Linked DNA regions of Homo sapiens. The protein of the gene in region 2 interacts with the protein of the main gene of each other region in a biochemical or structural test. Each region holds a gene or a part of one and is shown on either strand. Other genes may lie near its edges.

What was found.
Region 1: the proteins of ARMC8 (region 2) and MAEA form a complex in vitro, tested with the Homo sapiens proteins (one study listed by BioGRID).

Annotation. Positions count from the first base shown.
Region 1 is NC_000004.12:1,284,936-1,293,049, forward strand, and holds the start of MAEA (E3 ubiquitin-protein transferase MAEA), read left to right. Parts: upstream 1-4,955; 5' UTR 4,956-4,978; coding exon 4,979-5,047; intron 5,048-8,114.
Region 2 is NC_000003.12:138,217,770-138,225,359, forward strand, and holds part of ARMC8 (armadillo repeat-containing protein 8), read left to right. Parts: intron 1-4,156; coding exon 4,157-4,228; intron 4,229-5,619; coding exon 5,620-5,762; intron 5,763-5,866; coding exon 5,867-5,964; intron 5,965-7,590. UniProt on the Homo sapiens protein: Component of the CTLH E3 ubiquitin-protein ligase complex that selectively accepts ubiquitin from UBE2H and mediates ubiquitination and subsequent proteasomal degradation of the transcription factor HBP1.

The DNA.
Region 1 (8,114 bases), on a different chromosome or scaffold from region 2:
CCACACTGGGCAAGACTTTGGAGCCTAAGATTTTGGAAGTTTGAACCAAGAGACGCAGAACATGGCAGCTGTTGAATGCTATACTACGACAAAAAGTATATTTGGTCTTGGTCCCTGGTTCCGGTCACCAAGTGTCTAAAACCCTTGCGATTTCCTGAGTGTGGGAGCGTCTTCTTTCTTCATAAGGAACTCCTTCCCACCACACCTGAGTTTATGTTAATGAAGTGACTCTGGGTGGGGCCTCCAGATATCACTAGAAAGACCCGGAGATTGGTTGGCAGGAATTCTCAGCCCCTCTCCCACTCCACCTCCACCTCTGGGGATGAGGGGGGCTGGGGATTGAGATATGAAAATGTGTGAATAATGAGATTCAGGAGAGCCTCCTGGCTGGTGGATGCCCCGAAGTGCTGAGCGGCTGCCGCGCAGAGAAGGCTTGGGAGCTCCTCGCCCCACCATGCCCGATGCACTCCCGTTAGCTATTCCTGAGCTGTGTCCTTCATAATAAGCTGGGAAGCATTAAGTGTTTCCTGAGCTCTGTGAGTCATTCTAGCAAATTATTGAACCTGAGGAAGGGTTTGTGGGAGCCCCAAATGTGTCATCTGCCTTGTGGGTGGCCTGGGCACCCCATGTGCAGCCGTCACCTGGAGTGGGGACAGCCTTGTGGAACGGAGCCCTTGGCCTGTGGGGTCTGTGCTAACTCTGCGAGTGAGTGTGAATGGGGTTGGATTGTAGGATAGCCAGTTGGTGGCAGAGTCTGACAGCTGGACAATTTCAAGTTATATAAACCAAAAATAAGATACTAAGCTCCCCCAACTGACTGAATGGAACCCCCTACCCCCACCTTCAGCCAAGGGGGTTTCAAAGAAACCTGAAAAATCAGTTCAGGACACGATGGCGGCGCATGACTTTTCTTGGTCACTTGTCAGCCAGAGACCCCCAGCCAGCGACACCCTTGCTCAGGCCCAGGTTTGCCACAGGAGATGCCCATTCACTTGGCCCATCATGTCATGCCAGGCCCGCACTCCAGCGTTTGCGGCTGTTCCGACTGTGCACTCAGCCCCCAGTGGGAGGGGGTGTGAGCGAGTGAGTGCGGGGTCCAGCCAACGGTTCCAAGTGTCAGCACAGACGCAGGCTCCATGCAGGGCTTGTGGCTGGACCAGGCATGTTGCAAGCCACTCCCATGGTGGACTCCGGCGTCCAGACAAGGGGAACACGGTGGCGCCCAGGTAGGGGTGCTGTGATCCTGAAGCCCCAGAGGGGGTGTTACAGCATGCTAATTAGCTCTTTTAGTCTGCATCCTGATGGACAGTGGTGCGTCAACAGCTCTGTCAGCCGCTTGCCCCGCATCAGCCCATGGCTCCAGGGCTGGCTCAGTCCCACTGCTGCTTCTGTCACATGGGGTGGCTGCCCTCTGCTGGTGAAGGGCAAAGGGTTATGGAGTTACAGCCTTCTCTGTATTCACATTTGGTGCATCCTGAGCTCTTGTCCCACGTCCAAGAAGAATGATGATACACTGACAATTGAAGGGTGAGGAGGATGGAGAAGAATTTTATTGAGTGACAAAGCAGCTCTCAGTGGAGCAGGGATGTGAGGGTGGTCCCCCACCTGAAGTCGGATGGTTTCTCTCTCCATGTGGCTGGGTTTGGGGCTTTCATGGGCTCAGAGTGCACACTGATTGGTTTGTGAGGATGCAAAAATGGCTAAAACAAAGGCATCACTCAAAGGTGGGGACAACAGTGTAAAAAGCAATTAGGGGCTGGGTGCGGTGGCTCACGCCTGTAATCCTAGCACTTTGGGAGGCTGAGGTGGGTGGATCACAAGGTCAGGAGATTGACACCATCCTGGCTAACACGGTGAAACCCCATCTCTACTAAAAATACAAAAAAAATTAGCTGGGCGTGGTGGCGGGTGCCTGTAGTCCCAGCTACTCGGGAGGCTGAGGCAGGAGAATGGCGTGAACCTGGGAGGCAGAGCTTGCAGTAAGCCGAGATCGTGCCACTGCACTCCAGCCTGGGAGACAGAGCGAGACTCCATCTCAAAAAAAAAAAAAACCAAAAAAACAACCAACCAACAAACAAAAAGCCAATTAGGGAAGGATAGGTATATGTAAAATAGGTGAAGGGTGGGGACCAATCAGAGGAAAGCATGCCAGGCAGGAAGACAGGTTCCCAATCTAGTCCATGGATTTACCTGGGACTTGTAGGTCGGCTTTAAACTGTCTTCGGCTTGAAGGTCGGGTTTCACTGGGTAACTGCTCGGTCTGCCTCCTGCCACTATTAACGTGAAGGGAGAGTTGGACATGCCTCAGTATCCCCTCCTCCCTTTCGAGTTCAGGCACAAAACTTACCAGCATTAACATTAAAACAGAGATCTTAAGACTGACAAAACAGACTCTGTAGCAATAAGATGCCAAATTCCAACTTGACTCTAGTAGAGCATCACATGACAGATAGCTGGCCTTGAAGGAAATCAAAGTGTTTTACCCCAAAATATATTTCTTTGACATATTTTGAAAGGGCCCTGCAAAGCTGTCTCTTGTGGGAGAAATTTACATTCTGTAGGGAATCCCTTGCCCTTCCTTTCCGGGTCTTTTCTGATTCTGAAGAAGTTAATGGTTAACTGAGAGTCTAGCAGCTCTTGTTTTTTTTTTTTTTTTTTTTTTTTTTTAGGAGTCTCGCTGTGTCACCCAGGCTGGAGTGCAGTGGTGTGATCTTGGCTTACTGCAACCTCTGCCTCCCAGGTTCAAGTGATTCTCCTGCCTCAGCCTCCCAAGTACCTGGGACTACAGGTGAGTGCCACCACATCCAGCTAATTTTTGTATTTTTAGTAGAGACAGGGTTTTACCATGTTGGCCAGGATAGTCTTGATCTCTGACCTCGTGATCCGCCCGCCTCGGCCTCCCAAAGTGCTGGGATTACAGGCGTGAGCCACAGCACCCGGCCAAGTCTAGCAGCTTTTTAAGATCTAGATATGAAACATTTGCCATCTATTGCTTCTAATGGTGGCCACCTATGAGGCTTCATCTATGTAATAAGAACGTTGGTCTCCACAACCCCTTTTAACCCAGATGCTCCTTTCTCTCGATTCCAGATCTTTAGATAAGCACTCTTTCAACCAAATGCCAATCAGAAAATCTTTGAATCCACCTGTGAGCTGGAAGCCCCGCTGTGCTTTGTGTTGTCCTGCCTTTTCGGACCAATGTAAATCTCACATGTACTGATTGATGCCTACATCTCCTTAAAACGTATAAAATCAAGCTGTAACCCAACCACCTTGGGCATGTGTTCTGAGGACCTCTTGAGGCTGTGTCACTGGTCATGATCCTTAACCTTGGCAACATAAACTTCTAAACTGATTGAGATCTGTCTCAGACACTTTTTGGTTTACAAAAGGACTAATTCAAATACAGTTTTATCTTCCAACATAAGAAAACCTAGAATGAATGACTCAAAGGTTGTAGAGGGTTAAACAACCTCTCCAACGTGCAAACCTCTGCCTTATAATTCCTAAGTATTTCTGACTGTAGATGGTACTAGGATAGGATCATTTTACCATGGAAATGAAACCCGTGTCCTTTCCTTTGGGTTAATCTTGAATCCCTGGTGAAGTGAAGGCAGTCTCTAAGAGGAGTGCAGTCCATCCAACTGCTGCAGTGCTCCTGTGTACTACTGGGACCATCCCGGAGAGTGGCAGACACGATGCGAACCGTGAAAGGACGCAAAGAGTACAGAGTGCATGCTTCCATCTCTATAGGAAGGTCAGGAACGCTGTTACGGGGAGCAGGGTTAGAATGATGGGGATATAGCCCGGGAAGGGGCAGAGGAGCTTTCTGTGCCACGGGAAATGTCCTAAATCTCAACCAGGACACGGTTAGATAAAAGTGCAAATATGGGTGAAAATTCATTAAAGCTGTATAGTTAAGATTTGTGCACCTCACTGTAAAACTTACTTCAAATGTCTAAAAGACTGGAGTCTGCAGCCACACACTTGAGGAATAACACTTTCCTTAGTCCCAACTCCTGTTTAAGTAAGACAGAGAAAGATTCCACAGTGCGGGTCGGATGTCTTGCGGCTGTAACATGTAGCAGCCTCCAAGCGGAGGTTCTCCCTTCATCGCTGTGTCACCTTAGATGTTTTTCCTTTGTTTAAACACCAAATATTTTAAAAGTTGTTTAGAAATGTGTTATGTGAAACACAAGGTGGTTTAATTGGGACGTCATTTCCTAATTAATAAAATCTAATTTCAGTTTTATTTTGGAAAGGAGGGAGACGGGTGGTGTTTGAAAGGCTGAGAATGTGAAGTGGCTGAAATGAAGGCAGCGCACGACCTGGATGCCAGCGCTGCCCGCCCTGCAAGGAGAGGGCGGAGAGGCCACACGCTTCTCATGCTTCGGGAGTTTCTGTCCATAAATCAGTTTTAGGTACTGGGCCTTTCCTCTTCCGTTGGGAAGTCGGAGGTTCCACATCAGGATTCCAGCAGCTGTAAATCGGTCAAAATAAGGCCAAAGAAAAATAGCTGGCTACAGGCGCATGCGGCCAGGCGTTTTGTTGGCGTTGCCCTTGGTACCGCAGGCACGAGGGACCCACAGGGGACCACCCCGCGGGAGCCCCAAGTAACTGGACGGACGCCAAGTCCCCCAGCCCGCTCGGCCCCAGCTCCACCCGCCCGGGCCGCAGCCCGCACCCCATCGGCCCGCCCCGGGCCAGGAGCATCCCCAGCTCCGGCGTCTGCGGCCTGAACCCGGTAGCGAATTCAAGGTGGAAACCGCCAGCCGGGGCTATCGTTGATTGGCTGAACGAGAGGAAACCCGGCAGTGATTGGTTCGCGCCTTCTTCCGCCTCCGGCCGACTGGGCGGATACGATTGGTGCAGGGGCATCGGCCCGCCCCCATCCTGCTCCGGCCGGCGCGTGGCGTCATTTCCCGGCGTGCAGCGCGCTCGCGCGTCCCCCGCCCGCTAATGTTTTGGCCGCTTCAAGATGGCGGTGCAGGAGTCGGCGGCTCAGTTGTCCATGACCCTGAAGGTCCAGGAGTACCCGACCCTCAAGGTGGGCGCCTGCGCCGCGCAGGCTGAGGGCAGCGAAGGCGTCTCCAGCCAGTGCCCTCGGGCCGCGAGGGGCCGCCCCGGGAGGGCCAGCGGCGAGGGCGGCGGGAGCTGGGCGCGGCCTCGCGGGGCCGTGCGGGCTTCTCAGGGGCGCCCGGTCCGCGCCGGGCAGGTGTGGCGGGGGCGGCGGCTTTGGCCCTGCCAGGCGCCCGACTGTGGCCCCTCTGCTTGAAGAGCTGCGTGAGCCGAGCCAGCGACGACTCTGGCAGCGCTAAGGGTGGCGAATTTGGGGCTGGGGTGGAAGCCGGAGTTTGCGGGGCGTGGGGTCTCTGGCGCCCAGGCAGACGGAGTGCGCGGCGTGCCCAGCCAGTGCCCGGCCGCCCTCCCGGGAGCCCAGGGCTGGGAGGTGCCGGCTGCGCCGGTCGCTAGTTAGGAACTGTAGGGAGAAACCTCACGGCCTGATGGCACCCAGCGACCTTTTTGATGGGCGTCACCAAACCTGAAATACAGCTCTTGCCGTCCGGCTGCCGGTTGCGTGACCTTGGGTGGTCACCTAGCCACGTCGCACTTCTTAGAATGAAATTTGTGCTCCTAGTAGAAGGAGCCGATACTTGTTCTTTACCTAGTTAGTAGAGGATTTGATATGAAGCACCTGGGAAGGAATTCCTTAAAAGATCAAGGTCATAGCTTTCCTAGAGCTGCGGCTGAGCTTCGTGGTTCTGTGTTGCCTTCCTGGAGAGCTGCGTAGTTTCTCTCTCCTCCCAGAGCGCCCTGGTGTTCACGTCCGTCTGAGGACGGACGGTGTGGCGACAGGTGTGGAGGATGCAGTATGGCCAGGTTGCTGTGCGTTCCCCCAGCCCCAGGGCAGTTCAGCGAAGGGCTGAAGAGCACAGGCTGTGAGCCATCCTGCTGGGGTGTGAATCAGGCTTCTCTGTATTCGTCCTTACTGGGAGACATCAGGGCCCGGTTGGTGACTGTTTATTCTTGTCAGGTTTAAGCAGTGGTAGCGCCTGTGTCACCTCAGGGTGAAATGAGTGACCACGTATTGTTTCAAACAGTGCCTAGCATTCATTAAAAGGTCCCTGCTACAGTTAGCGCTGCTGAAGTCAGGCTGTACCCTGCTGTAGCTGGTCTTCATAGGAAAGCAGAAGCAAGCTTCTCCTCCTCTTTATTAACTAGCGGTTTATTTCATATTTTTAAAAAGAAACGGGGTTTCACTGTTGCCTAGGGTGGTTTTGGATTCCAGGACTTAAGCGATCCTCCTGCCTTTTGACCTCCCAAAGCGCTGGGCTGACAGGTGTGAGCCACGCGCCCGCCACACTAATGGTTTCGCAGTGGGGTTTCATGGTGCTTGTGTGTCCAGCACTTCTTTTGATCAAGGAAGGGAGGGCAATGTTGCTGACGTTACCAAAGGTCTAGCCTCTTGCTAGATCCCTCCAAGATGTAGGTGGTTGGTTTTTAATACTCAGTGACATTGGTGGATCTCTGTTGGTTTAGAGATGGAGACCCTGCAGCTGAGAGAAGTCTATACAAGGACATTGTGGTGATATTAGTAGGGAGTCCTAACCACTGACCACTTTGTCTCACGCAGTGCACCTCCAGGCCTGTCATTTCAGCTAACACACAAGAAGGTTTGAAGATCAGAACCGTGGTGGTTTGTCACTTCTGGTACTGGCTGGTGAATGTGGGAAACACTAGATAGGAAAAGTTTCCAGAAATCCTTTCATTGTGTATTGAAGGAACTAGGAAGGGAGATGGAAGGTCTCCGGAAAGGATTCTTCTTCAGGTCTTCTGCTGTTTTGTAATCGTGAATGTAATTTGTATTCCAGAGTGATTGCATAGCTTCTGATTAAAATAGTCATGCAGATAGTCATACAGGTAAAGAAATATTATAGTGTCATAATTTCTCTGTTGACACTTGTGTCACTACTGAGTTAAAACTTTTTTTCATAGAAGTTTTCAGGAGTGATTCCTAGTGGATAATGGAGGTGTTTTGCTGGGAAACTAGGGATCCTTGATTTAGAAGCATTTATTGGTATAGAACTAAACAGAACATGCTGAGCTCACAGCTCAAGAGCTGCACTCTTCAGTTTCCAGGAGGGGCCAGTGCAGATGTCAGAGAAGGGACCGAGGGCTGCAGGACCGGGGTTGTGGAAGGTGGGGGGTGGATGTTCTGCTTCTCTAGTCTGAGAGCAAGTCCTCCTGCAGGGTGGTAGCAGCTGGCATGCTCTGGACTGGATCTTCACCTGGTAATAGTTAAACTGCTTTCCTGCCATGTGAGTCCTCCACAGACTCACAGGGGATTCCTTTCTCTTCAGAGGGCTTGGTAGCCCTAGGTGGGTTTCAGCAGTAACACTTGGGATGTCTGCTTCCTCACAGCGTCAGGGCGGCTGGTGGGGCTCCTGGGTGCCTGGCAGGTACTTATTTTTCTATTTTCCTGGTGAAGTGGGAAGAGAATGGAACAGACGTGAATTGCTGCAGCCAACACGCACTGACCTTGGGCACCTCTGTCGTCATGAGCTTCTATTTCCACCAAAGGGGTGGACCGGCCTGCGAACGTTTGGGCTGGAGGAGCCTTTGTCGGTGGTGGGGGCTGTGCAGTCTAGGATGTCTAGCAGCATCCCTGGTGTCTGCCTGCCAGATGCCAAGAGCATGCCCCCAAAATGTCTTCAGACATTGCTAGATGTGCCCTGGGGGCATGCACACACCCCTGAGAATTGCTGGGCTGGATCCTGCTTTAAGGGACTTGTTTCTTCCTCTTACCAAACGGAGGTGTGGCTCATGAGGACTCAGCCTTGCGTCCTGGCTGTGGCTGTGTCTTTTTGCTGTCAAATGCTGTGAACGCCGTCCGGTGTAGGGTGGTGGGTAATGCCTTGTGGGGGAGGGGAAAGATGAATAACTCACCATCTTTTTTTTTTTTTTTTTTCTTTTTTGAGACGGAGTCTCACTCTGTTGCCCAGGCTGGAGCGCGGTGGCACAATCTCAGCTCACTGCAACCTCTGCCTCCCAGATTCAAGCAATTCTCCTACCTCAGCCTCCCGAGTAGCTGAGATTACAGGCACCCGCCACCA
Region 2 (7,590 bases):
CTTATCTCACCTCAAAGATAATTCAGTGTGTACAAAGTCAAAAATCAATCCTTGTCTTCTCTCTAAGCTTTCTGTTGTTTCCTGCACCCATGTGCCCAGACATGAAGTAGTCACTCGACATGTCACATATCACATTTTTGTACCTATTAAATCATCTTGTTAACTGCTTCCTCAAAATGACCTTTGTATTAATGATTCCTTTGGCTGCTCCACTAATCAGTTTTGTATAACCAGATACCTAGATGGATTGATTAAGTCCTTCAACAAATATTTATTGAGTGCCTGCCTAGTACCAAGCATTGTGCTAGTATGGGGGTATATAAGGGTGAATAATGTAGTCAGTGCTCTGAAGGGTCCAAAAGTCTAATGAAATAGTCAAATAACTAAAGAGACCATCCATGATAGTTTACCTAATGAATGCTATGTTAAAGATAAGCATAGGGGTCTGGAGATCACAAGGGGGGGCATCAGCCACTTAGTTGTCCCTCTTAACTAATATTATAAGCATTCCATTTCACATTCAGCTTATTTTCCTTAGTCACTGCTTCCTTCATGCCCCTTCTGTGATCAAAAATATGATTGCTCCTTAATCCATCTCCCTTTAGTTTGTCTCATCTCCCTATCACTTTTCTAACTTTATGTTCCATGCCACCCTAAAGCGAACTTGTTTTTCAGTTCAGGCTCCTTGTATTGCCCCAGGAACATGCCATTTTCATTTCCAATATGGTCTTGTATGAACGATTTCTCCTTTTGTCCTCCCATCTGCTTATCCAAGTCCTGACTATTGTCTAAGGTTTATCTTAGTTCTTAACCATTGCCTCAAAACCTTTTAAGCTTATTGAGCATCTACTTTTCTTTACCTTATAAACATTCAGTTTTTAATTTAGTACTGACTTACATTGATAGTGTTATTTTTGCCACTCCACGGATATTGTGAACTCCTCAGACCAGGCATCCCATTGTGTGATACTTTCGTATACTTCATAGAGGCTAGCACAATGCTGAGCTCAAAAACTAGTTGTTGAATTTCAGTAAAAGTAAGTAGAGCATTTTTCCCAACATTAAAAGTTAGTGGGCATGAGATGACATTCTTTTGGTCTACTGGGAAAAGGGTATCTGACTAAAAGTTAGAAACACTTTTATTTTGCATAAAAATGTAACATTAAAACACAGAAGGAAAAAGAAAATGAATTCACTGAATTCATTTGTCTTTTCCATTGGTTCGTTGTCAATGTCTGATGTCCTGGCCATAATGGAAAAAACAGTTGGCATAAAAGACATGGGTTGAGACTGGCTCTGTCATTTAATATTGGGTTCTGAAAAAAGGCCAATCCTGAGTTGTAGCTTTCTCTCTGTAAAATGGAGTTAATATTACTCTAGATTATGATGAAGATGAAATTAAGTAGTGGATATGGAATGCTTTGTAAATTTGAAAGTAATGTAGAAATCTTGGATAGTGTTGTTGTGTTCCCATCTTGGATGATAGCTGTGAGTTTGCATTTTACAAAAATAATGGATATCTAGAATCACTATAAATAATGATCTACTGACAGTAACTGCTTTGATATTTCCAGGTCAGATTGGCTTTCTTGCCTCTCAGGAGGAGATAGACTTTTACTCTAACAAAGTGATGACCTGGGGGTTTCAGGGCATGCTTCCTGAGGAAGTGACATTCAGACCTGAAGGATGAGTAAAGCTAGTCAGGGGAAAGTATGAGGGAGGGGATAAGGAGATGACGGAGAAAGAATAACTACACTCTGGGAACTGAAAGAAGCTTCATCTAGATGGCTGAATGTTGTCATCTGAAATTGATTGCTTAATCCTGTTAATCCTTTTGATTTTAATTCTTCATGGAAGTGATCTATTAACATTCCTTTATAGCAACAATTGAATAGAATTTATTAACATCTTTTTTTCCTTATCTAGCACAGGTATATTTACTTACTAAAGCCAAAGCGAGAATCTTTTTCTTTAGACATTGTTCCATTGTATTGTGTTCTCTTTAGTTGGCATTTCCTCTGTTGCCATCAGTTACCTCCTTCATGTCCTTTTTGTAAACTATTAAGAGAATTAGAAAATTGGTGTTGGACAGGTTTTTGTTTGCTCTTGTCTGTAAAAACATGGCATGGTTTGAGATGTTTGGAATGGGTTCATTTGGTAATGTTAGGGACCGCTCATTTCTGCTTAAGAAGAATGGAGAGGAAAAACTGGGGAAATATTAGGGTTGGGAGTTCTGGAATAGAAAGCATTCAGAATGGCACTTAGCCTACACAGACTCTAAGTAGGTAGGGGCTGGATAAATGAATGTTCTACATTAGTATAGGCAGAACACATTAAGAGAAAGGAAGACAATGAAAGTGAACAACAAGCTGGTAGGTTAAGGTCCATATGCTGATGATTAGGAACTAAAGCCTCTAAAGAAAACAGGCATCCATGAGGATGCGGGAGCTTAGAAATCTCTTACTAACTTTAACTTTGCTAATTGATCCTTTGATATCATATAGTTTTATATTCATGTATCAGAACTTGCTAACAACCTCAGTAAACTTCATTCAGTTCAGTCCCATAAACAACAACAAAAAAATTGCTACTTATTTCTTGTAAACCATATAGAAGATCTGAGGGATACTTTACAGAGGGATAGGTCAGGCCTGGAAAAAAAGCCCTACCCTCAGGCACTGAGCTAATGGAAGAAAGACCAGGCATTCTCAGTATTTGGCTTGACTTGTAAAAATGCCATTCAGAAACTTGTAGGGAAAATCTGCTTTTAGCACATCACTAGTTGTTGCAGTATTTTTCTGCAATAATCAAAAAAGGCAATTGAAGACAAGGGTTAATCGTTACCAGGTTCTTTAATGCCAGTAAATATGATTGGTGTTAGAAATGTATGCTGACTATAACATTTATTTGTTGATTTTTTTTTCTTTTTTTTTTTTTTGAGATGGAGTCTCGTTCTGTCACCCTGACTGGGGTGCAGTGGCGCGATCTCTGCTCACTGCAACCTCCACCTCCCCAGCTGAAGTGATCCTCCTACCTTAGCCCCCCAGGTAGCTGGGACCACAAGTGCGTGCCACCACACCTGGCTAATTTTTGTATTATTTGTAGAGATGGAGTTTCGCCATGTTGTTCAGTCTGATCTTGAACTCCTGAGTTCAAGCAATCTGCCTGCCTAGGCCTCCCAAAGAGCTGGGATTACAGGTGTGAGTCACCGTGCCCGGCCAGGGAAGTTTTTTTAAACATTTTATTAGTAGTACTGGGTTTATTTTGAGCTATTTATTTTTTCTCTACATTTCCTTTTGAACCAACCACAAATTTGTGAGCCAAGTGATCAGTGGTAGAGGTTCTCTTATTGTGGAATAGAGTTTTGCTCCTGGTGAAGTATAGAGCTCTGTATAGCTAGAATAAAAAATACTGTGAATATCTGAGAAATGTAAAAGATTCTTTGTTATTTTTTAAATCGCCTTAAGAGATAACTGGCTGCTTAAGCAAAAATAGTAACAATGTATTATGTTGTTTCTAAGCAATTTAAAAATATTGTATAACAGCAGCCCAAAAAATGAATGGGAAAGTGGAAATACATATGCAAGGCTCTTAAAATACATGTGCAATGGGCTAATATCACTTGAAGACTGACTGTGATAAATTAAAAGATGCATTGGAAAATAACAAAGGAGTACAGTTAGTAAGACAATAAAGCAGATAAAATGGAATTGTAAGAAATAATATATAAAGAAGTAAAAAAAAAAGTGAACAAAGTGTGATCATTGAAACAAGGAGTTAATGTTCTGTGGGCTGTTTTTTCTGTTGTTGTTGTTGTTCGTTTAACTCACTCCCTACTCTTAGAGCTGAGCGTGAGGGTGGCCTGTATTCCTTTGTATCCAAAGTATTGGTAGGTACCCTTTCTAGAAGAACTCAATTCTGTACTGGAAGTCTTTCGCCAGTACTCAGGATATCTCTCACTTTCTACAATACGCCGTTTTACAGCCCCCACATTCACTCTGCACCTATCTCTATCCCTTCATTAGTACTTTAGGTGAAAAAAGGTTAGTGCTTTTACTTTGTCAAATCTAAGATATTGCATAATGAAGTAGAATGATCTTTGATTTTTCTTCAGTGCTGTCTCAACATACTTTATTTTTTCTTCCCCTTAATTCAGAGACATGAAAAATGCTGTAATTGGAAACAACAAGCAGAAAGCCAATCTCATTGTTTTAGGAGCTGTTCCAAGGTATGTTTGCTGTCTCACCCCTTTCTTGCCATTCATACTAGTTTCTAATGTATTTCTTACTCTCAATTATAGAACCCATTTTTCCTGTATTGTCTGTCTAATTCTTAAAATAAATCCTATTTTTAAAAATAAATGTAAGTATTTAAACTATCTTTAAGGAAAAAAATTATAAAGTAACAGAGAATGTAGTAAGAAGTGAATGTGTTAATACATTTTGGAAACTCAGGAAGACCTTTGACCTGATGACAAAAGGGTTCGTAAAGTACATATGCAATGTACAACAGCCTGATACTTTCTTCTCCATTTCCTTAGAGCCTTGGCAGTTTTTTGTGTGAGTGGGTAATTTATTAGGAGCCTTAAGACCTTTTTGAATTTAAAGGAAAAAAACCCTGCTTGATTTTTAATCCAGTTTCATTTTTTAACTTCTGATTTTTACAACTTGCTGTTTTTTAAGTTAACGTAAGAAGTTTAGGAAGTTTAATTTCTTCTTTTGATGACCTAATAAGCTTCCTTTAGGCAGGCAATGACAGTTACATAACTTCCTCTTTACTTTTGCTCCTCAGAGCTAAGTTTTCTGTGCAATTGCTATTAGCTTTTCATTCAGAATTATTTATTATTTTGTTTTTTTCTCCTTATTTTCTGGTTTTGATACAGAATTAATGGTTTAAGTGTTTTAACTCACCAACCTCAAACATATACTTTAGTAACTATAAAGCTGTCAGCAGCCTTTCTTAGGGGATTTATGTTTGGTATATATAAATAGTGCTTTATGGAGCATGAGGGTCCTGTCTTAGAACATAAGGTAGATGGTTATAAGTGGAGGAAGGTTAGGGTTTGGGGAGTATTTGTTTGGCAAGCTGGGCTGGAGTGGAAATGAGAGGATCTCTTCCTTTTCCAAATGAGAGAGCTGGAGAAAGAAGAAACTACCTTTGCTTGAGGAGCTGCACAAGGGCTCTGAATATTCCCTATAGGCTCGATATCTACAAACTGCACCACTGCTCTGGATTCAGAGCAGTAGCATTTCTAGTTTGAGTTTAAGATCTGGCAGCACATGGCATTTGAGAGTCTTCATATTTTGGAGACCCAGCAGGAAGTGGTAGATGACATGGACTCTGATGACGCTGTTTCTACAGAGACTATCTGTGGACAACTTTCAGATTTACACTTTTTATAAACTCTAAGAATATGATAGTTCTTTTTTTCAAAACCTCTTCTAGATTTTTTTTCCAGATGTTTCTTTAATTAGCAGATGAGATAAACAAATGACCATTGGATTCATATAAACTCAGCCAACCATATTTTTAGTATGTGGACTGCACAGCCTTTTTTGGTCACATTGAGTCTTGTTTAAATTTTTTAGTCTCTTCGTTTATTAAGTTCCTTCTTTTTAGATTGTTGTACTTGCTTCAGCAAGAAACCTCAAGCACAGAGCTGAAAACTGAATGTGCAGTGGTGTTGGGAAGTCTTGCTATGGGTACTGAAAACAATGTCAAGTCTCTACTGGACTGCCATATTATCCCTGCCTTATTGCAAGGTATGTAGGGAAGCCATTTTTGCTCAATTAAGGTTAAGAATCAGTTTGCAGTGCTTTAAATACTGGTTGAAAGGATTAGTCCTAAATCTCATTTCTGTTAATAGGACTACTGTCCCCAGACCTGAAGTTTATTGAAGCTTGCCTCCGATGCCTGCGTACCATCTTCACCAGTCCTGTCACTCCAGAGGAGCTACTGTATACAGTGAGTTTTAGATGTATTTGAGACATTAGTTACATTTCACCAACAGCCTACTCCTAATTTGCTTAGCATCTTCAGACTCATCATAACTGTGTTATGTAAAAAAGTCTCAGTTGGTCATGGTGGCTCACACCAGTAATCCCAGTGCTTTGGGAGGCTGAGGTGGGAGGATTGCTTGAGGCCAGGAGTTCAAGATCAACCAGAGTGACATAACAAGACTCCATCTCTTTTTTTTTTTTTTTTTTTGAGGTGGAGTCTTGCTCTGTCACCCAGGCTAGAGTGCAGTGGCGCGATCTCGGCTCACTGCAACCTTCACCCTGCCAGGTTTAAGCATTTCTCTGCCTCAGCGTCTGGAGTAGCTTGGATTACAGGCGCGTGCCACCACACCCGGCTAATTTTTTGTATTTTTAGGAGAGATAGGGTTTCACCATCTTGGCCAGGCTGGTCTTGAACTCCTGACCTTGTGATCCACCCGCCTCGGCCTCCCAAAGTGCTGGGATTACAGGTGTGAGCCACTGCGCCCGACAACAAGACTCCATCTCTACAAGAAAAAAATAAAAATAAATTAGCCTGGTGCAATGGCTCATGCCTATAGTCCTAGCTCATGAGACTGCAGTGGAAGGATTGCTTGAGCCTAGGAGTTTGAGGTTATACTAAGCTATGATGGTGCCCCTGCACCTCAGCCTAGGTGACAGAATGAGATCCTCTCACTAAAAATAAAAAATGATAAAAGTCTCCGCTGGGTACAGTGGCTCACGCCTGTAATCCTAGCAGTTTGGGAGTTCAAGATGGATATATCACCTGAGGCCAGGAGTTCGAGACCAGCCTGGCCAACACGGTGAAACTCCCATTTCTATTAAAACTACAGAAATTAACCGGGCACGGTGGCACATACCTGCAACACCAGCTACTCGGGAGGCTGAGCCATGAAAATCACTTGAACCCAGGAGGAGACGTTGCAGTGATCTGAGATCACACCACCCTACTCCAGCCTGGGCGACAGGGCAGACTGTCTGCTTTTAGAGACTGTCTCTAAATAAGTACATAAATAAAGTCTCAAAAAGTATTTGAGTTCTTTCTTATTTCCAAATATCAGATGCTCTCAGCTTTGTAAGAAAGTGAAAGATAGTCTCAGACTTTGAGGAATTTACAAGCTATTTTTAAAAAGACCCATTTTTATCTCTCTATATGTAGAACTTAAGTTTATTTTACGCTAGATGAATGATAGGGAGTTCAGCTGACTTTCGGTTGAAATCCAGCAGAGTAGGCTTTGCAGAGAAGCTAGAATTTAATCTGGGTTTTGAATAATGGATAAGACTTAGAGAAGTGGAGAGGAAGGCATGAGGCACCGTGCTCAGCCCAAATTCATTTCTTCTGGCTTTTTTTTTTTTTTTTTTTGGAGACGGTGTCTCTCTCACCGAGGCTGGAGTGCAGTGGAGGAATCTCGGCCCTGCAACCTCCGCCTCCTGAGTTCAAGCAATTCTCCTGCCTCAGCCTCCCGAGCTACTCAGCTGGGCCTACAGGCATGTGCCACCACGCCCAGCTGATTTTTGTGGTTTTAGTAGAGACGGGGTTTCACCATGTTGGCCAGGATGGTCTGGATCTCCTGACCTCATGATCTGCCCGCCT